Regions from separate parts of the Homo sapiens genome. Here all the other regions are linked to region 1. A link means that fine-mapping ties the variant in region 1 to the plasma level of a protein whose gene starts in the linked region. Region 1 holds a variant in brackets. A gene starts in each other region. All regions are shown on their forward strands.

Region 1 (5,146 bases):
GGTGCACTTTGATGAGGGGAAGGCTGTCTACCTGAAGCTGGACTTGCTGGTGGATGGTGTGCTGGCCCTGCGCTGCCTGGAGGAATTCTCAGCCACTGCGGCGAGTTCCCTCGGGCCCCAGCTCCGCCTCTGCCAGGTGTCTGGGCTGTTGGCCCTGCGGCCAGGGTCCTCCCTGCGGATCCGCACCCTCCCCTGGGCCCATCTCAAGGCTGCCCCCTTCCTCACCTACTTCGGACTCTTCCAGGTTCACTGAGGGGCCCTGGTCTCCCCGCAGTCGTCCCAGGCTGCCGGCTCCCCTCGACAGCTCTCTGGGCACCCGGTCCCCTCTGCCCCACCCTCAGCCGCTCTTTGCTCCAGACCTGCCCCTCCCTCTAGAGGCTGCCTGGGCCTGTTCACGTGTTTTCCATCCCACATAAATACAGTATTCCCACTCTTATCTTACAACTCCCCCACCGCCCACTCTCCACCTCACTAGCTCCCCAATCCCTGACCCTTTGAGGCCCCCAGTGATCTCGACTCCCCCCTGGCCACAGACCCCCAGGGCATTGTGTTCACTGTACTCTGTGGGCAAGGATGGGTCCAGAAGACCCCACTTCAGGCACTAAGAGGGGCTGGACCTGGCGGCAGGAAGCCAAAGAGACTGGGCCTAGGCCAGGAGTTCCCAAATGTGAGGGGCGAGAAACAAGACAAGCTCCTCCCTTGAGAATTCCCTGTGGATTTTTAAAACAGATATTATTTTTATTATTATTGTGACAAAATGTTGATAAATGGATATTAAATAGAATAAGTCATAGTCTCTCTCTTTATTGGGGCTCAGGGGACACTCTCAGGGTAGCTGGGGGCCACGTGAAGGGGGGCGTTGCGGAGCGGCACAGCTGGAACTCCGGGATGATGTTCAGGCTTGGGGGCGGGGACCTCCATGCCTCCAGCCCCCAGGTGGGAGCAGAGGTAGGAAGGCACACTGCCCAGGAAAAAAATCAATCCTCCGCCCAAGGTACAGCAGAAGCGGCCTCCTTGGCCTAGGAGGCAGACTTCCTCCTGCGGGGAAATCCCTTCCTGGCTGGGAGGAGCAGGGGCCCTTCCTCTTGGTGGCCTCGGACATTCAGCAGGTGCTGGCACAGGCCCTGGCTGGGAGGTGGGGCGGGCAGGAGCCAGCCTGGAGGAGGGGCTGAGAGTCAGCAGGCACACGGGAACCCGGAACCCTGTGTGCTGGGGAGGAATCCCGCAGTGGCCGGGGGGCTTGAGGCCGCTGCTTTGTCTCTTCGTCCAGAGCCTTATGTAAGAGCTTTTCTCGGGAAACAGGAAGTCCTGCTTGCCAATTTCAGCACAGGGAGTAGTGCAGGCCTTATTCCAACACACCCGGCCCAGCCTTAACCCCAGAACTCAGCCAGTTTCTTGCTTCCGTGCCCCTGGTTCTCCTCCCCATCGAGCCCACCCCTCCTTTCCCACCTTCAGTCACCCCTAGTGAACTGCCCCAGCGATCTCTGCTGTGCTTGACCCCGAGGGTCTTCCACCCTCGCCCTGACCCTGGACACTGCCCAGCTTGGCCCCCCATCCTGCTCCTGGCACAATGCCCTCTAGCCAGCCAACCTTCCCTCCCCCAACCCTGGGGCCGCCCCAGGGTTCCTGCGCACTGCCTGTTCCTCCTGGGTGTCACTGGCAGCCCTGTCCTTCCTAGAGGGACTGGAACCTAATTCTCCTGAGGCTGAGGGAGGGTGGAGGGTCTCAAGGCAACGCTGGCCCCACGACGGAGTGCCAGGAGCACTAACAGTACCCTTAGCTTGCTTTCCTCCTCCCTCCTTTTTATTTTCAAGTTCCTTTTTATTTCTCCTTGCGTAACAACCTTCTTCCCTTCTGCACCACTGCCCGTACCCTTACCCGCCCCGCCACCTCCTTGCTACCCCACTCTTGAAACCACAGCTGTTGGCAGGGTCCCCAGCTCATGCCAGCCTCATCTCCTTTCTTGCTAGCCCCCAAAGGGCCTCCAGGCAACATGGGGGGCCCAGTCAGAGAGCCGGCACTCTCAGTTGCCCTCTGGTTGAGTTGGGGGGCAGCTCTGGGGGCCGTGGCTTGTGCCATGGCTCTGCTGACCCAACAAACAGAGCTGCAGAGCCTCAGGAGAGAGGTGAGCCGGCTGCAGGGGACAGGAGGCCCCTCCCAGAATGGGGAAGGGTATCCCTGGCAGAGTCTCCCGGAGCAGGTGAGTGAGGGGAGGAGGGTGTCTGGGAGAGGATGGTTAGCATGGGGGGTCTCTGGGCCTCCTGGTCTGCAAAGTTTCAAGGGGGTGCAAGAGAGGGTCTCCGGTTTGGAAGTCAGGGGCGCGGCCATTCCAGGAAAGGAAACTGTTAAAGGTTAATGCTTCTCATACCTAACAAATCCTGGAGGGCAGCCAGCACCAACACTCAGGGTGCTGGGAAAAGGTGCGTGAGAGATCTGAGGCATCTCGGGGGCAGGGGAGGGCTGGGAAGGCAGGCTGGCTGGGACCCTCGCATCTTAACCTAACCTTGACCCTCTTTCCATGAGCAGAGTTCCGATGCCCTGGAAGCCTGGGAGA[A/G]TGGGGAGAGATCCCGGAAAAGGAGAGCAGTGCTCACCCAAAAACAGAAGAGTGAGGCTTCCAGGGTGCAGCAGGGGTGGGAGGTGATCAAGCAGCGTGGGGATTGTAAGCCCGAGTCAGGGTGAGGGTGGAGGCTGCCAACAGCACAACGGGGGAAAGTGGATGCGGCTGAGATTCCCTCCTTCTCTCCTCAGAGCAGCACTCTGTCCTGCACCTGGTTCCCATTAACGCCACCTCCAAGGGTGAGCACTATTTTAAATAATGGCTTTGGGGAGGGGCAATAACCAGGAACTCGGGCTGGCACTTGGGCTCAAGGGGTCCTTATAGGTGAAAGGGAAAGAACCAAAAAGCACCTGAGAGTGCCAAGAAGTCCTGACCGACACACTCTCACCTCCAGATGACTCCGATGTGACAGAGGTGATGTGGCAACCAGCTCTTAGGCGTGGGAGAGGCCTACAGGCCCAAGGATATGGTGTCCGAATCCAGGATGCTGGAGTTTATCTGCTGTATAGCCAGGTAACCCCAGCCACACTCTGAGCTTCACAGAGGGCCTCTTTGGCCCCCTACTGAGGGTTCCTGACCCCTCTATTCATACCAAACCCAGCAGACCCTTCTTTCTTCCCTCGTTAGCGCTCCTGAGGCCTCCCAGAACTGAGCCAGGCCATCCTGTTTTCTTCAACATCTCCCTTCCCTGCCAGGTCCTGTTTCAAGACGTGACTTTCACCATGGGTCAGGTGGTGTCTCGAGAAGGCCAAGGAAGGCAGGAGACTCTATTCCGATGTATAAGAAGTATGCCCTCCCACCCGGACCGGGCCTACAACAGCTGCTATAGCGCAGGTGAGAGCCGTGTGGGCAGCCGAAAGCAGGACGTCTCTGACCGGGGGTAGCAGTGCAGGGAGCTACCGCTAGGAGGGAGGTTGGAAACCTAAACAGAGGCGGGTCTGAGGAGTGAAGTGCAGAATGCCGGGTCCTTACAGGAGGCAGAGGAACGGTGGAGCTGGAGAAGGCAGGGGGAAACAGGGCATCTGGATGGCTGTGCTTCACTGCGAATCTACTTTCTCTCTTTTCTCAGGTGTCTTCCATTTACACCAAGGGGATATTCTGAGTGTCATAATTCCCCGGGCAAGGGCGAAACTTAACCTCTCTCCACATGGAACCTTCCTGGGGTTTGTGAAACTGTGATTGTGTTATAAAAAGTGGCTCCCAGCTTGGAAGACCAGGGTGGGTACATACTGGAGACAGCCAAGAGCTGAGTATATAAAGGAGAGGGAATGTGCAGGAACAGAGGCGTCTTCCTGGGTTTGGCTCCCCGTTCCTCACTTTTCCCTTTTCATTCCCACCCCCTAGACTTTGATTTTACGGATATCTTGCTTCTGTTCCCCATGGAGCTCCGAATTCTTGCGTGTGTGTAGATGAGGGGCGGGGGACGGGCGCCAGGCATTGTCCAGACCTGGTCGGGGCCCACTGGAAGCATCCAGAACAGCACCACCATCTAGCGGCCGCTCGAGGGAAGCACCCGCCGGTTGGCCGAAGTCCACGAAGCCGCCCTCTGCTAGGGAAAACCCCTGGTTCTCCATGCCACACCTCTCTCCAGGTGCCCTCTGCCTCTTCACCCCACAAGAAGCCTTATCCTACGTCCTTCTCTCCATCTATCGGACCCCAGTTTCCATCACTATCTCCAGAGATGTAGCTATTATGCGCCCGTCTACAGGGGGTGCCCGACGATGACGGTGCCTTCGCAGTCAAATTACTCTTCGGGTCCCAAGGTTTGGCTTTCACGCGCTCCATTGCCCCGGCGTGGCAGGCCATTCCAAGCCCTTCCGGGCTGGAACTGGTGTCGGAGGAGCCTCGGGTGTATCGTACGCCCTGGTGTTGGTGTTGCCTCACTCCTCTGAGCTCTTCTTTCTGATCAAGCCCTGCTTAAAGTTAAATAAAATAGAATGAATGATACCCCGGCTCCATTTCCCCCACTGCCTCGCCTCAGCCCGGTCCTCGTACGGGGATCTCCCGCCCTCCTGGCTCTCCTGTGGCGCGCCCCCCGCCGGATCAAGGTACTGGGGATGCCGCTAGGGTCAGGCCCGCGAGCGCGGAGAAGACAGAGCGCGGCGCAAAAGGGAAAGTGGCGGGGCCGCCACGCGCGGCCGGGCGGCGGATGTGCGCAGGCGCAGCCTCGCGTAGCGCTCTGGGCTGGCCAGTCCCGTGGCGCCGGCGTCCTCGGGTAGACGGGACCGCGCGCTTGGTGGCCGCGCCGGCGCTCTTCGCCGGGTGTGACGTACTAATCGTGCGCCACCGCTGCCGGTGGGCCCGGGGCTCGCGGGAGGGGAAGGAGGAGGGGGGGAGGAGTGGCGGCGGCGGCGGTGGCGCTGGTGGCGGCGGTGGCGGAGGTGGAGGTGGAGGTGGAAGCTGAAGCTGAAGCAGAGCCAGAGGCGGCGCGGCGGGGTGCTCGGCGGCGCGGCACGCGGCCCAGAAGCGTTGGAATCCTGAATTGAGACGGCTGCGCCTAAAGACAGCAGGAGTGGCGGGGCCGCCGCCGTCGCCGGAGAGATGAGCCGGGAAGCTTGAGGCCGGAGACGCCCGCCTTCGGGCCCGTCC
Region 2 (5,146 bases), not on the chromosome of region 1:
TTCACAAAACTGTGAGTGAGAACATGAGTCTGCAGGTGGATGTTAGCATTTGTGTGTGGTAAGAGGCGATTTCTACCTTTCAAGGTAGAAAGGGCACAGAAGTGGAGAAATGACATTGGTGCTCAGGAACTGGGAGTGTTGGGGGAAATAAGACCAGAGAAGCATGCAGGGCCTGAGTAAGTGGTTCTAATTTTATTATAAAAGTGATAAGGAGTCATGGAATGGTTTCAAGGAGGAGATTGACAAGGTTAGAATTTCAGACTTTGATGGAGCACTCTGTCAGTGGACAGAATTTAATGGGACAATATGAAGCAGGGAGACTGATTAGAAGGCAGGGCAAGGAAATGGACATGAATTAAGCCTCCCTTGGGCACCAGACTCCAGGCTATACTCTTTTCATGAGATCATTGAATCCAAGGGCTCATTATCATCATGCCTAATTTTTAAACAATCAACTGATGCTCAGATTATTTAGACCTGATGCTCAGCCCAAGAGATGGTAATGTGTAATTTTTGTCAGAGTATTTATCCAAATTATCTTCATTATCTGCTTGTTTATTTTCCCTTCTCTATAATGCAAGCTCTATGAGACCTAGGACTTTCCTTATGTTCACCATATATCCTCCAGGACCTATAACGGTGAATGGCATATAAAAGATATTCCTTTAATGTTCACTAAATATATTTGTGTTGTATAATGAATTAATTAAAGAACTAGGTTAATAATATAGGAATAGAAGGATAGAGATTTGAGAAATGGGTAATGAAGAGAGAGAGGACACAAAACTGGCAGGTTTATCAATTGAGTAGGTATTCTGCATATGGGTTGATTTATTTATTCAACAGATTTTTGGAATGCCAATCATACTCCAGAGCAAGGCAATAGAAATCCAGGAGTGTGTGAGAGACAAATCATCCCTGTCCACATGAGGCTATTGGAGACTTATCCAAACTTAAGTGTTTTACTGAGAACAACAAATTATTCACCATTCACCTGAATATTTTGGCTTCCTTCATCTTTGCATTGTTTTAAATGAAGCTAATATTTTTGTGAGTGGTTTCTATATGGTCTGCATTTACGTAGGTTATTTCATATAACCATGTCAATAATCCTGTGAGGTAAGCACTAGGATTAACTGCATTTTGTAGACCAGGAATCTGGTAGCCAGTAGGTGGCAAGATGAAGTTTGAACCTAGATCCTGTTTGACCCCAGAGCCCATGTTATAAACTTTGCCCTCTCATGCTCAGGACCTGGCCATTACCCACATTGTGTGGGGCCACACTGAGATGTATTCCTACTTCAGGAATTATAGTCCATGCACCTTCCAACTGTGAGGTCCTCTTTTCTTATATCACGCCTGCTCCATTTCTGCTCCTCTAGCTCCTACTCACCTCTAAGTTTCATGAAGTCTTTACTAGCTATTTTGAATACAGTTTATTATCTGCCTACAGCATTCATTGGTAACTTTGCCTGGACAATTATTTAACTGGGAGCTTGTTGCATAGCTGCTTGAAAGTACATTGGCCTTGCTGGGAGCCCTTCTATGTCATGACTTTCCAGAACATAGACGTAGTGTCTCCTATGGACTCTAATTGCTCAGCACCTGTGCATAGATATTACTAAACACATTTGCTGAACAAATAAATAAACATATTTAATTATAATATTTAACCTTTAGTAAAAATCAACCAGTTCGCACATATGAGTTGATAGAGACTTACGTACACCCACAGGGACAAAGAGAAAGTCATATGCTTTAGATTTATCCTTGCTTTGTCCACCTACGCCTCTGCGACCTCCTCCACCCCATGTTCTTAATCAGCCAATTGCTGCAGTGGTTTGCAATTATGTACAAGAGAAAGACCTGTCTTTCCCGTTAGAAACCTTGCCTCTTATGCTGGGGACCAGGATCTGGCCTTGTCATACAAGGAATAAATACATCTCCTCTGCAGAGAGGAGAGTGGGCTCTTCTATGAGTAAGACAATATGAACAAACAAACATGAAACATTCTCTGGACTTTAAGAAGTACTTTTTAAAGAAAAAAATAAATGAAATTTTAATTGTTGTGGTTATTGTGGTTTCCTACTCTGTAAGATTGAAAATTCCTTCCAGCTGTGGCCATTTTCTTCAGCCTCAAGAGAAAGCCCTGAGCTACAGAGTAAAGTTCAAAAATACAGTCTCCTAATGTAGGAGAGAGTCTCTCAGCAGGGGCTGAGCCCCAAGAAAGGACCAGGCCTGCGGTGGAGAGAGAAGCTGTCCCGATCCCACCCAGGGCCCATGGTGAGCCCTTTTACTCACCCAGGACCAGTAATATCACCCACAGCAGCATGAAGACCTGGACCACCAAGGGCTGAGATCAAAAGAGAAGTTTCCTCAATTCCAAAACAGGTTTGGACTTGATCTTACAGTCAGGACACTGCACACCAGCTCCAAGGAGCACATCTGAGAAGCTGTGCTCTCAAAAAGAGCAGAATGCATTAGTGAATTGAAAAAAGGAAGTGGGAGTACCCGTCTTCAGCTGCTAATCACAGTTTCCTACCCGATGATCAAAGAAAAAAAAAAGTTAAGGTTTTAAAAAATCAAATACCCTTGACCCTACATTTTTGCTATTGGGAAATTACCCTGAAGGAAGTATCTGAAGAGAGTACTATAAGAACGTTTATTGTAGCATTCATTATTGCCTAAACACTGGAAACAAAACAAAAAACCATGATATGGGGACTGTTTAAGAATATTCTGATTCATCCGTATGGTGACAAGCAATCATTAAAGAATAAGGTAAATCTGAACATGCCAAGAAGGGAAGACCACCTTGTTTGATGTGAAGAGAATAAAAGTGAGATATAGATTGGTTTTGTAGTATTATCCCATTGGGTAAATATAAAAAATAGGATATATGTGTACATCAACTCTTTTAAGTATACTTTCTTCTTTTCCTGGAAAGTACACACAAAAATATTGATTATGTTTGAGGAGCAATAGGTGGGAAGAACACAATTTATTTTATGTATTTCTGTACCGTTTGATTTTTTAAAAAATTACCAGGTGAATGTATAGCTCTTATGATTTTCTAAAAGTCAAGTTTCCATCCTGGTATACTGGTCAACAGAGGTTCCTAAGACATTAGCTGCCACGAGGAGTGCCAGTTTCTTTCTTTCAAATATTTTCTCACCCTTTCTCTCTGGGCCCATACCTTGGTCTTCCTAAGGGGGCATTTAATTTTATATCTACAAATGCACATCACCTTAGGTATATTATGTCACATCTGACCCACTGCACCCTGAGGCAAGAAAACCATACAGGGGTTACAGGGGTGAATAGAGATTAAGAGGAGAACTTCAAAGGGAACACAGAATCTTTACCTACTTTTGGTGCTAAAACAAATAGTGCTGCTATGAACATTCTTGTATACATTTATTGGGGCATATGCGCACATAATTCTGTTGGGTATATATCTGGGAGTGGAAGTCCTGGCTCATAAGGTATGCATATATTCAGTTTAGGAAGTATTACCAAATTATTTTCCAAAGTGGTTGTGCCAATTCCCACCACACCCACCAACCAATGTATGAGAGTTATCATTGTTCTAAAATTCTTGCTGATATTGGTATTGTCATCTAGTAAAATCTGGCCGTTCTGCTAGAATTATCTCAATGTGGTTTTAATTTGTATGTCTCTGGTGAATTTGAGAATGAGCATTTTTTCATAGTCTAATTGGTGATGTAGATATCCTTTTTATGTGCAATCTCTGTTCAAATATTTCCTCATTTTTCTCTTAACTTTCAGTCTTTCTTTTCCTGTTTTGTAGTTATTTTAAACCCTGAATATAAACCTTTTGTTGGATATATGTATTGCAAATGTCTTCCTTCAATCTGTGGCTTGCTTCTTTGCTCATTGATAGTGCCTTTTGATGAACAACCATTCTAACTTTGACATAGTCCAGTTTATCAGTCTTCTCCTTTGTGGTTAGAGATTTTTGCATCCCTTCTAAGAAAGTTAGTCTACTCCAAGATCATAAAGATACTCTCCCAGGTTATCTTCTAGAAACTTTATTTTTTACCATTTATTTTATATTTATAAGAGCATTGCAATTGATTTTTGTGTACAGTTTGAGTGTTTATATTCACTTTTAACTTAAATACAGATAATTTATCCTGCCCTATTTATTGAAAGTTGATTTTTTCCACAGTACAGTGCAATTTCACCTTTGTTATAAAACAAAAAGCCATGTAGGTCTATTTTTGGAAACTCCTTTCTTGTCCATTAGTCTATTTTGTCTATCCTCATGCCAATACCACACTCTTCTAATTATTGTGGCTTTATAATAACTCTTATTAACTGATAGTTTAAGTCATAAAATGCTGTTCTTCTTCAAAATTGTTATGGCTATTTTTGGCTTTTTGAATTTTTCTATACATTTAAAAATCACCTTGTCAATTCCTGTCCCCTCTCTCCCCAAAAGCCTAGTAGATTTTTAATAACTGGGATTGCATTGGATTTATAAGTTAATTTGTATAAATTAGAAAAGATTTAGTCTCCCAATCCATAAACATACAATATCCCCTCATTTATTTAGGTTAACTTGACATTCTTTCAGTAATTTTCTATAGCTTTGCCTCTGGAAAGTATATCTTTTGGTAGGTTTATCCTTAGGTTATTGATATGTTTTTTATGATATTGTAAGTGACATCATTAGATTTTTTTCTAAATGTATATTGGTATATAGAAATATAATACTTTTTTGTTTTACTGACCATTATTTTTATTTTTTTGAGACAGAGTTTTGCTCTTGTCCCCCAGGCTGGAGTGCACTGGTGCGATCTTGGCTCATTGCAACCTCCACCTCCCAGGTTCAAGCGATTCTCCTGCCTTAGCGTCCCAAGTAGCTGGGATTATAGGTGTCTGCCACCATGCCCAGCTAATTTTTGTATTTTTAGTAGAGATGAGGTTTCACCATGTTGGCCAGGCTGGTCTCAAACTCCTGACCTCAAGTTATCTGCCCGCCTTGGCCTCCAAAAGTGCTAGGATTACAAGCGTGAGCCACCATGCCCGGCCTTACTGACCTTTTAATATCTACTAAAATTGCGGAATTTACTTATTAATTTTAATAGTTTATCTTTAGGTTATTTTAGATTTCATGCAA
Region 3 (5,146 bases), not on the chromosome of region 1:
TGCCCTTTGGTGTGCAGCAGAAGTGTTTGATTTCTACGTCTTATTTTCCCATGTGAGTATAAAGAGCTGCATACTCTCAATTTGTGCTTCCAGTTAAGATGGAACTGGATTTGTCATCCCACCTAAAATATATTAAAAATGACATTCACAATGGATTGGATAAAGAAAACGTCACACACACACACACACACACACACACACACACGCACACACACACACACACCCTGGAATACTACCAGCAATTAAAAATAACAAAATTTTGTCTTTTGTAACAACATGGATGGAACTGGAGGCCATTATCTTTAGTGAAACAGCTCAACTAGCACATGTTCTCACTTATAAGTGGAAGCTAAATAATGTGTACACAATGACATGAAGAGCTGAATAATAGACATTGGAGACTTGGAAGGGTGGGAGGGTAGGAGGGATGAGAAATTACCTGATGGGTAAATGTATACTATGTTTTCAGGTGATGCTTACACTAAAAGCCCAGACTTGTCCACTATGCAGTATATCCATGTACCAAAACTGCTCCTGTACTCTCTAAGTGTATAAAAATTTTTAAAATGATGCTTAAATATTGGAAAAGAGGTATCACAGGAAAGTGGTGAGAAAAGGGAAAATGAAATGAGATGAGCCTGATGTTTTCTCCAGCTTACTGCTTTGAGAGTTTCCAGGATGCAGTGCAGGTAGGAGGAGTCCACACAGAGCTGGTGGTCTCCATGAGATGAAAACGCAGACGTGAGGAGCTCTCTCTCCTCCTGTACTCTGTCCTGCTAGATTTAAAATCTAGCTTCATGGAGAGACAGCTTCAGAAGGCAGTAAAACAACAATTTTATTACTTCATCAATGACATTCTTAAGTGAAACTGGCTCTTTTTCTTTTCTTTTATCGTCCTCTTCTTTTTTTTTTTCTTTATGCGTGGCAGTGAAAAATACTAAGATGGCTGGGTATGGTGGCTTACGTCTGCAATCCCAGCACTTTGGGAGGCCGAGGCAGGTAGATCACCTGAGGTCAGGAGTTCGAGACCAGTCTGACCAACATGGTGAAACCCTGTCTCTACTAAAAATACAAAAATTAGCAGGGTATGGTGGTGCATGCCTGTAATCCCATCTCCTCAGGAGGCTGAGATAGGAGAATCGCTTGAACCTGGGAGGCAGAGGTTGTAGTGAGCCGAGATGGCACCATGGCACTCTAGCCTGGGAAATAAGAGTGAAACTCCTTCCAAAAAGAAAGAAAGAAAGAAAAACACAATGACTACAAGTATAGATTTTCCTCCTCAATAGTACAGTTTTGTGTCCTGTATTGACAGTTGCTAAGGTGCCAGCATTTTTACCCATCATTGCTTTTGCAACATCAGTGCAAAGTCTATACAGTAGAAAAAATGAATCTTGTTTTGGTATTATTATAAAAGTTGATTTGACTTTGGAGACAGCCAAGAGGGTCTTGGGGAATCCCCAGTATCCATGGACCACACTTTTGAAAACTATTGTTTTAATAGAACCTTCTGGTCATTACTACTTTGATCTAATGGCGCCACTTTAAAGGTGGGACTGGGTGTAGGAACATCCTGCCATGGCAGCTTCATGGAGAAGATCTGTTTTGGCAATTGGGTCCTTCATTTCCTTCACATCACAGTATGGAATCTATACTATAATGGAGGTAAAAATTTCTCCACTTGAGAACAGTGTTATCACTGTATATACAACACATTTTTTCCATGATGAAAAACAGGGTCTGAAACTTTAATTAAAATGGAAAAGTCATTAGTTATCTTCCATGGGAAGAGTTTGAAGAAAGGAAAAGTTGAAGTAGGGCAAAAATAGCAGATATAAGGTATTTCTAAACGTTTCCCAAATGAAGGAAGAGAGAAAAGAATGAGCGAAGGAAAGGAAAAGGGTATTTAGTGTGTAAGACACTAGAAAAGATATGCATAAGGAATGAAGTGATACATACATAGTGGTGTTGGATTTGTAGATTCTTGGAAAGTTGGCAGAAAAGCTTACATGTAAAAAAAAAACCAATGTATTGAAATCAGTCTCACTAGCTATGTGGAATGTTTTAGATTTGTACCAGATACAATACGTTTGTGGTGGATACAGGAGATGCGCTGCCCAGATCTGCCCCCAGGGAAGGACCCTGCTCCAGCTGTTGGAGGCCGGCTGGCCCACAGCCTCTAGCAGTCAAGCTCTTTTGGCTGGAAAGCCGCTTGCAGGAAATCACTCCATGGAGGTGCAGAGATAAGGCCCCAGACATTTTGGCCCAGTATGGGACAACTTTGACCGTCTTTTTCAGCTTCAGGACTCCCATGGAGTTGGGTGAGGTTGTTGGGCCCGCTTTGCTGCTAACTTCTCCCTCTGTTCTCTCCTGTTCCCCTTCTTCCTCCCACAGGGGTTTGTCCCAAGGGCACTCCCTAATACACATCCTGCATGTTAAACTCTTGTCTCAGAGTCTGCTTCCTGTAGATACCAAACTGTAAGAACATCTTATTGACTTAAATATAACCAAAATTGGAGAAACTTAGGAAACAAAATCATCATTACGTTATGTGCTGACATTTTAGCTTATTTCTATATTTCTTGTTTTGAATTGCTCATACTTAGCATGATAGTACCTCTCACATTTTGTTTCATTTAGGTTTGCTATTTCCACGTTCTCTTTCTTATAGGAACCATATTGTGAAAAGACATAAAGGTAATAGGGTAAAAAAAAGCAAATAGGCTCTTTATTACCCAGCCACTCAGGAAATGCACTATTTCAAGGTTGACCCAGGCAGCAAGAGAGGAGCTGTATTGGGGAATGTGACAGTGGTTTAGTTCTGAAACTGGAGCCAGTAGAAAGTTCTGAAGGGGGTCCGATGATCAGAACTGTCTGTGGGTTTAATAAAGGTGTATTTAATTTTATTTAAGCCTGGAGATTTAAATTGTCACTCAAAACTCTCAGACATGAATAGGGTTAGCAAATCTGTACACCAGGAAAGGAGTTATTTACATCCTGTCTTCTCCTACAGCTCCAGAGGAGGGCAGAACAGTGTATTTCCAGGCAAGCCCTCTCTTTAAAAACTCATAGCCAAGGCTGGGAAGACAGAGTGAGTGGGTGGGCCTTCTGGCAGCTTCCTTACCTTCAAATCTTTGCTCTCTGTGAAATGGTTCTGCTTCAGTATCCTTGTTCTGATTTTTCTGGGAACTAGATGTTACTGGGAGATGACTCAGAGCAGGCCAAGCCCTGATCCTCACTGTGGAAGCAAAAGAGGCTGGTGAAAGTCACTGTCCTGACAACTTGGACCAGAAACCTACAGACAAAACTGAAATGTTTTCCTGCCCTAGGATTATCTGGATAACAATGACCTTTGATGTTACAAAGTAAATAGAATTGTGTTTGGCTTTTCCTTTTGGGGCCATGCCTTGGAGAAGATGACTCCTTCAGAGCCGCTGTGAATATTGTAGATCTCATTATTTCAGATAATTACTTTGACCATCCTTTTCAATTTGAGAGTATGATGTGAGGCAAGGCAACTATTTGTGAGAAAAAAGAGAAAAGGCAAAGATCCACTGTCATACTTTTGCTTGTGGGTTCCAGTCCAGGCTTTCTATGGGGGGTGGGGGGGTGTCTCAGTCTCCCCGTCTGTAAAATGGGATTAGTGGATTAAATCCGGGAAGGTTGGACAAGCACCTAGGACGGTGCCTGGTGCCGTGTTCAGCAGACGTCGATTCCCTGTCCACCCCTTCTTTAGGAGCTGTGGGAAACACTTCATAACTCCCCAGGGTCTGGTGAACCCTTCCTCCCTTTTCTGTTCCCTGTTTTGGCATTGGAGATCATAAAAAGGCTCTTCCATGTCTCTTGCTTCCTTCCTTTCATCTTCTCCAAGAGAAGGAAGTGGCCGCCTTTGTTAGCTTGGGTTCAGAAGCTTGTGTCTGTCACCCAGGGCCGCCCAGCCCCGGGGTTTGCGAAGGTCCGGGGTAGGAGGGCTGCAGCCTGCGCGACGCGGCGGGAGGCTACCCGGGGGCGATGGGAAGGCGGGCGCAGTCGACCCAAGGGTGGAGAAGAGGGAAGGCGAAGGACGCGCGTTCCCGGGCTCGTGACCGCCAGCGGCCCGGGGAACCCGCTCCCAGACAGACTCGGAGAGATGGCAGGCGGAAGACACCGGCGCGTCGTGGGCACCCTCCACCTGCTGCTGCTGGTGGCCGCCCTGCCCTGGGCATCCAGGGGGGTCAGTCCGAGTGCCTCAGCCTGGCCAGAGGAGAAGGTGAGGGGCTGTTTCTGCGTAGTTGTACTTGAGCGGCTCTGGTCCGATGCGAGGACCCCTGGCCGGGTCAGCCCTACCTAGGCAGAGCGGGAGGCGGGGCAGGGCCACGGTCCCCAGCCCAGGCACCGGCGCCCCACCCGGCGCCCGGAGGAGTCGGGGCTCTGCATACTCGCCGGGGTGCCTCGGCCAGTCCGGGGCTGTTCTGGAGACGCCAGGGGGGCTGGGTGATGTCACTGGCCTCTCCTGGGCTGCGGTCTGATGGGGGTGCTGATAGGCACAGGAAATGTGTCTCGCCGGCGGCTGCTGAGCCGGGAGGCGAGGGCGCATCGCGGCGCCACCCCCCACTCGGGACCCTGGAGGGCAACGGGGCCGGCGCTCCGGGGCCGCTAGGGTGCGGGGTGCGCCTGGGGGTGTGCCCACAGCCCCCCCGCTGCTTCATCCAAGGATGCTGCTGGGGCGCTGAAGTGTCCCTACAGTCTCAGGACGGATGTGTGTTGTTTGTTTTAGATTTTTAAAAGGAGCAACTCGGCAGGAAGGACCTTTACTGGAGACCTGCTTACTTCAAAAGCCTTTTTCCTCCACTTAAAAGAGGGTACCTGCTATTTTCAGAGAAAATGGATCTAGTTGTAGGTAGAAATCGCATATAAGGAACTTAGGATAAAAGTGATTTGCAAGTTCCCTCTGTAAGAAGTGTATGGGTTCGGCCGGGCGGGGTGGCTCACGCCTGTAATCCCAGCACTTTGGGAGGCCGAGGCGGGTGGATCACGAGGTCAGGAGATCGAGACCATCAGGGCTAACATGGTGAAACCCTGTCTCTACTAAAAAATACAAAAAATCAGCCGGGCGTGGTGGCACGCACCTGTAATCCCAGCTACTCGGGAGGCTGAGGCAGGAGAATGG
Region 4 (5,146 bases), not on the chromosome of region 1:
TGGCTCATTTCTTGTATTTTTAGTAGAGATGGGGTTTCACCATGTTGGCCAGGTTGGTCTTGAACTCCTGACCTCAGGTGATCTGCCCGCTTTGGCCTCCCAAAGTGCTGGGATTACAGGCATGAGCCACTGTGCCCAGCCTATGTTGTTTTAAGCCACAAAATCTTTTGGCAATTTGTTACAGCCATTATAGGAAACTAGAAACACCTATCTTTGCTCAGTGGAACCGTCTTCAAATTGGTTATCTAATATAACAAAGTGTTTTAGGCTCATTTTGTACATTTTCTACCCCAGACTCCAAGGAGTCCTGGTTGCTTATAGTGGGAAATGGTATTTTGAGACCACTAAGGGTGTTCATGGGTGGTTGTCTTTTTTTTTTCCATCTTTTAAATTTATTTTAAAATTGTGTTTTTTAAAGAATTTACCATCTTACCCAGTTTTAAGCATAGAGTTCAGTGGTGTTAACTATATTCACCTTGTTGTGCAACAGATCTCTAGAACTCTTTCATCTTGTCAGCTTGAGACTCTATGCCCATTGAACAACTCCCCATTTCCCCCTCCTCCCTTGGACTTTTGCCTTTTTGAAAATGGCAGGGCCAAGAGCCACGGCTCAAACCTGTGGTCCCAGCTGAGCCCAGGAATTTGAGGCTGCAGTGTGTTATAATCACACCTAAGAATAGCCATTGCACCCCAGCATGGGCAACACAGTGAGACTTTATCTCTAAAAAAATGGAAAAAATCACACTTCTGTTGTAAAATATTTTTACCAACGTATGATTATTTTCTTCTTAAGTGTGCAGATTTTTAGGCCAAAACTCCATGCCATTTTTGGCTGCTAACCCTAAGCTATATCCTGTAAAGGATTTCAAGTAGCAAGATATCTAAAGGAATAGCTGTCTTTCTAAAATGGAGTGAGAGTTTTGAAATGAAATACATGTCATAACAAAAGGATGACATTTCATTATTAGGACTCAAAATGTTCTCTTGAGCTCTAGCTTGTTGTAGGTGAATACATTATTAAGACTGGTGGAGTCCCTGCCCACAGCACAGAATTACAGCTAGTGTCCCCTGTTTGGGGTCTTATCTGGCCCTGTTCTGTCCTGTAACTAAACCTGCTGCTGAAAAGAAATAGTTTCCATGAGACTGTTTACTTCAGATCTATAGGTGCAGCTCTCTGGGCCATGATAATTTGATTTGTTGTTGTTATTGTTGTTTTTTGAGATGGAGTCTCGCTCTGTCTCCCAGGCTGGAGTGCAGTGACATAATCTTGGCTCACTGCAAACTCCACCTCCTCGGTTCAAGCAATTCTCTTGCCTCAGCCTCCTGAGTAGCTGGGACTACAGGCACTTGCCACCATGCCTAGCTAATTTTTGTATTTTTAGTAGAGACAGGGTTTCACTATGTCGGTCAAGCTGGTTTCAAACTCCTGACCTCAGGTGATCCGCCCACCTTGACCTCCCAAAGTGCTGGGATTTACAGAGGTGAGCCACTGCGCCTGGCCTGTTTGTTTGTTTTTGAGACCGAGTCTCACTCTGTTGCCCAGGCTGGAGTGTAGTGGCCCAATCTTGGCTCACTGCAACCTCTGCCTCCTGGGTTCAAGCGATTCTCCTGCCTCAGCCTCCCGAGTAGCTGGGATTACAGGTGTGTGCCACCATGCCTGGCTAATTTTTATATTTTTAGTAGAGACGGAATTTCACCATGTTGGCCAGGCTGGTCTTGAACTCCTGACCTCAAGTGATCCACCCACCTTGGTATCCCAAAATGCTGGGATGACAGGCATGAGCCACCGTGCCCAGCTGAGAATTTGTTTTATAAAGCAGGAGGCCCCATCCTCTGGGGGCCGTGGACCAGTACCAGTCCATGGCCTGTTAGGAATCTGGTTGTGGCTTGTTAGGAAGTGGGCTGCACAGCTGGAGGTTAACAGCAGGTGAGCGAGCATTACCACCTGAGCTCCAGCTCCTGTCAGACCAGCAGCAGCATTAGATTCCCATGGGAGCAGGAACCTTGTTATGAAGTATACAAGCGAGGGATCTAGGTTGCGTGCTCCCTATAAGAATCTAATGCCTGATGTTCTGAGGTGGAACAGTTTCACCCTGAAACCATCCCTCCCCATCCCCTCAGTCCGTGGAAAAATTGTCTTCCATGAAACTGATCCCTGAGGCCAAAAATGTTGGGGACTGCTGTTATACAGAGCTGTAGGAGAGAAGAATAATGCAGAGGGAAAAGGAGTGCCTGTCTGTTGAGACTTTCAGGGGGACCTAGGGACTGGTTTTGTTACAGTTGACTGGGAATTGTCTTGTTTATTTTATTTTATTTTTCATTTAAAAAATTTTTTTGAAATGGAGTCTTGCTCTGTTGCCCAGGCTGGAGAGCAGTGGTGCCATCTTGGCTCACTGCAACCTCTGCCTCCCAGATAAAGTGAAGCTCCTGCCTCAGCCTCCTGAATAGCTGGGATTACAGGCATGCACTACCACACCTGGCTAATTTTTGTATTTTTAGTAGAGATGTGTTTCATCATGTCAGCCAGGCTGGTCTTGAACTCCTGACCTCAAGTGATCCACCTGCCTCAGCCTCCCAAAATACTGAGATTACAGGCATGAGCCACCGTGCCTGGCCAAAGTGTCTTGTTTTATTTTTAAGTCTTTGATCACTCTCATTTACAGTAAGTGTTTGAAGAGTACATTCTAAATCATTTTTCTCTCTTCCTTTACAGGAAGTGCTCAAATGTTGAGCACACACACACAAAAAAAGAGGAAACAGTTGGATAGGAACTCAGAAATCATGTGACTGATGACTAAGTTAAATCTTTTCTGCTTACTGAAAAGGAAGAGTCTGATGATTAGTTACTGATCCTCTTTGCATTTGTAAAGCTTTGGAGATATTGAATCATGTTACCATTTCTGTTTTTTTCCACCCTGTTTTCTTCCATATTTACTGAAGCTCAGAAGCAGTATTGGGTCTGCAACTCATCCGATGCAAGTATTTCATACACCTACTGTGGTAAGTAAAACCGCAAAACAAATAATTGTAGCATCAACTATTTTGAGGGTAAGTTTTCACGAGAACCGTACACTGTTGTGGCTGGAACACACGAAACATCAGTGTGTTCCAGCTGCTGTGGCGGACGCTGCCAGCAGGAAAAGCAATAGCTGGCAGCTGCCCCATGAGAATGTTCTCGACCACTCACAGAGCTTGTGAGTCTCTAAACTGTGTTGTGCTTGACCTCCAAGTGCTTCTGTTCCCTGCGTCATCTTTCTCTACCCTGAGCCCAGTTTTTGGTTCTGCCCATTTTTAATAAAACCATCTGCTTCTGAGCTTTCACCTCAGCCTTGACACTTACTAGTTCTTCTTCTTGAGATGGTAGAGCAGTCCCAGCTGCTTCCTGGAGTTGATTTCTGCTCTAAGCTGTGACTCTTGAGTGCTCTTGGAATCATCCCCCTCACTGGATGAAAGCCTGGTTCTGTCACTAGCTGTGTGACCTTAAGCAAAGTACTCCAGCCTTTTTAGCACTGAAGTGAAAGTGATTTTATAGTCTACTTGATAAGGGTGTTGTGAGGTGAAGTTTTTTAGCATAGGGTCACATAGAGACAATAATACTCTTAATTTTTTTTTGGAGTCAGCCATACCCTAATACTATTCACTGGCTGTGTCACTGTCCCCTGCCCCAGCTGCTCATTAGCAAGTGTCCTGGGATCTGAAGGCACAGTGTCAGGCCTGACAGCTGTTTTGGTTCGGTACTTTCCACCGTGCTGCTTACCATGGGTTGGCTGCCCTTTTCCACCCACTAGCAATAGCTGGGAGGTTTAAAGTGGTGCTTCCCAAAATACCAGTTCTTTGAGATTCTTTTGGGAAAATAGGATCTATGACCTAATCATCTGGGAGAGATTTACAGATGTACTTTGGGTTCTGAGAAGTTCTGCAATAAAGGCACCTGTTTAACCACATTTTCAATTTCATTTGTTGTTTGTTTGTTTGTGTTTTAGTCTGGAGTGTATGTTAACTCTCTTGAGAAACATGCTCTGCCAAATGCTAATATAAAGTGACTTTCGGGAAATTGGGATAATTGCCACATGTGAGGAGGAGACTTAGGAGTGTGGCCAGTCACACACCATGGCCCTTCTCCTGGTGGGTTGCACTGAATTCCCTCCAAACGTATGTCTAAAATCTCTCCATGCTGCAAGATCCTTTTGCATTCCCCTCTTCCAGCAAGGCTCCTACTCTACTTGGCCCCCACTTCCCTCTCCTCCTTTGGCTCTTTTGTACCATGTGCTAATTATGCCACTGTGTGTGTGTGTGTGTGTGTGTGTGTGTGTGTGTGTGTGACAGAGTTTTGCTCTGTTGCCAGGCTGGAGTGCAGTGGCGCGATTTCGGCTCACTGCAACCTCTGCCTCCCAAGTTCAAACGATTCCCATGCCTCAGCCTCCTGAGTAGCTGGGACTACAGGTGTGCGCCACCACACCCGGCTAATTTTTTTTTTTTTTGTATTTTAGTAGAGACAGGGTTTCATCATGTTGACCAGGATGGTCTCAATGTCCTGATCTTGTGATCTGCCCACCCCGGCCTCCCAAAGTGCTGGGATTACAGGCGTGTGCCACCTTGCCCGGTTTATGCCACTCTTTATATGGTTTTTATGGATGTAACATTTTGTATTATTATTTAGCTTTCAATCTTTTCTTAACAATAACTCAATTTGTCTTTTTAAAACATTTCACATTTTATCTTATTTTATCATTTATTTTTGAGACAGGGTTTTGCTCTGTTGTGCAGGCTGGAGTGAGTGGCATGATCTCCACTCACTGCAACCTCCACCTCCCTGGCTCAAGCCATCCTCCCAGCTCAGCCTTCCAAGTAGCTGGGACTACAGGCACATGCCACCACACTTGTCTAATTATTAATTAAATAATTTTTTTTGAGTTTCACTCTTGTTGCCCAGGCTGGAGTGCAATGGCATGATCTTGGCTCACTGCAACGACCGCCTCCTGGGTTCAAGTGATTCTCCTGCCTCAGCCTCCCGAGTAGCTGGGATTATAGGTGCCCACCACCACACCCAGCTAATTTTTGTATTTTTAGTAGAGACAGGGTTTTGCCATGTTGACCAGGCTGGCCTCCAACTCCTGACCTCAGGTGATCCGCCCACCTTGGCCTC

Which allele goes with the higher level. Positions count from the first base shown, and alleles are read on the strand shown. Strength reflects both the effect of a copy and how common the allele is.
With allele A in place of G in region 1, the plasma level of the protein whose gene starts at base 2,485 in region 2 is higher (moderate association).
With allele G in place of A in region 1, the plasma level of the protein whose gene starts at base 4,025 in region 3 is lower (weak association).
For the plasma level of the protein whose gene starts at base 2,838 in region 4, A is the high allele of the variant in region 1 and G is the other (moderate association).

Evidence for each region. PIP is the posterior inclusion probability: the model's chance that the variant is causal. Protein levels are from antibody-based Olink assays in UK Biobank. Linkage for the fine-mapping came from a reference panel and not from the study's own genotypes, which makes the PIPs less certain.
Region 2: FCRL5 starts here. The variant in region 1 is fine-mapped to the plasma level of the FCRL5 protein (UK Biobank, PIP above 0.99).
Region 3: it holds the start of QPCT, and the variant in region 1 is fine-mapped to the plasma level of the QPCT protein (UK Biobank, PIP above 0.99).
Region 4: it holds the start of LY96, and the variant in region 1 is fine-mapped to the plasma level of the LY96 protein (UK Biobank, PIP above 0.99).

What each region holds. Positions count from the first base shown.
Region 1 is chr17:7,557,098-7,562,243 of GRCh38, forward strand. TNFSF12-TNFSF13 (TNFSF12-TNFSF13 readthrough) reads left to right here. Exons shown (of 11, transcript NM_172089.4): 7 at 2,527-2,605; 8 at 2,749-2,796; 9 at 2,952-3,070; 10 at 3,253-3,391; 11 at 3,627-4,504. The coding sequence ends at 3,736. TNFSF12 (TNF superfamily member 12) reads left to right here. Exons shown (of 7, transcript NM_003809.3): 7 at 2-784. The coding sequence ends at 253. It overlaps TNFSF13 (TNF superfamily member 13), which reads left to right and starts at 1,653. Exons shown (of 6, transcript NM_003808.4): 1 at 1,653-2,200; 2 at 2,527-2,605; 3 at 2,749-2,796; 4 at 2,952-3,070; 5 at 3,253-3,391; 6 at 3,627-4,504. The coding sequence starts at 1,943. The coding sequence ends at 3,736. SENP3 (SUMO specific peptidase 3) reads left to right here and starts at 4,822. Exons shown (of 11, transcript NM_015670.6): 1 at 4,822-5,146. It also overlaps SENP3-EIF4A1. RefSeq lists enhancers at 403-1,196, 782-841, 1,652-1,701, 4,076-4,325 and a silencer at 4,886-4,965. The variant A/G (reference allele first, on the strand shown) is at 2,555.
Region 2 is chr1:157,550,031-157,555,176 of GRCh38, forward strand. It overlaps FCRL5 (Fc receptor like 5), which reads right to left and starts at 2,485. Exons shown (of 17, transcript NM_031281.3): 1 at 2,302-2,485. The coding sequence starts at 2,332.
Region 3 is chr2:37,340,606-37,345,751 of GRCh38, forward strand. QPCT (glutaminyl-peptide cyclotransferase) reads left to right here and starts at 4,025. Exons shown (of 7, transcript NM_012413.4): 1 at 4,025-4,246. The coding sequence starts at 4,127. It overlaps LOC124907754 (a long non-coding RNA gene), which reads right to left and starts at 4,450. Exons shown (of 2, transcript XR_007086284.1): 1 at 3,122-4,450; 2 at 1-122. RefSeq lists a silencer at 4,396-4,455.
Region 4 is chr8:73,988,555-73,993,700 of GRCh38, forward strand. LY96 (lymphocyte antigen 96) reads left to right here and starts at 2,838. Exons shown (of 5, transcript NM_015364.5): 1 at 2,838-3,000. The coding sequence starts at 2,889. RefSeq lists enhancers at 3,080-3,179, 3,550-3,619.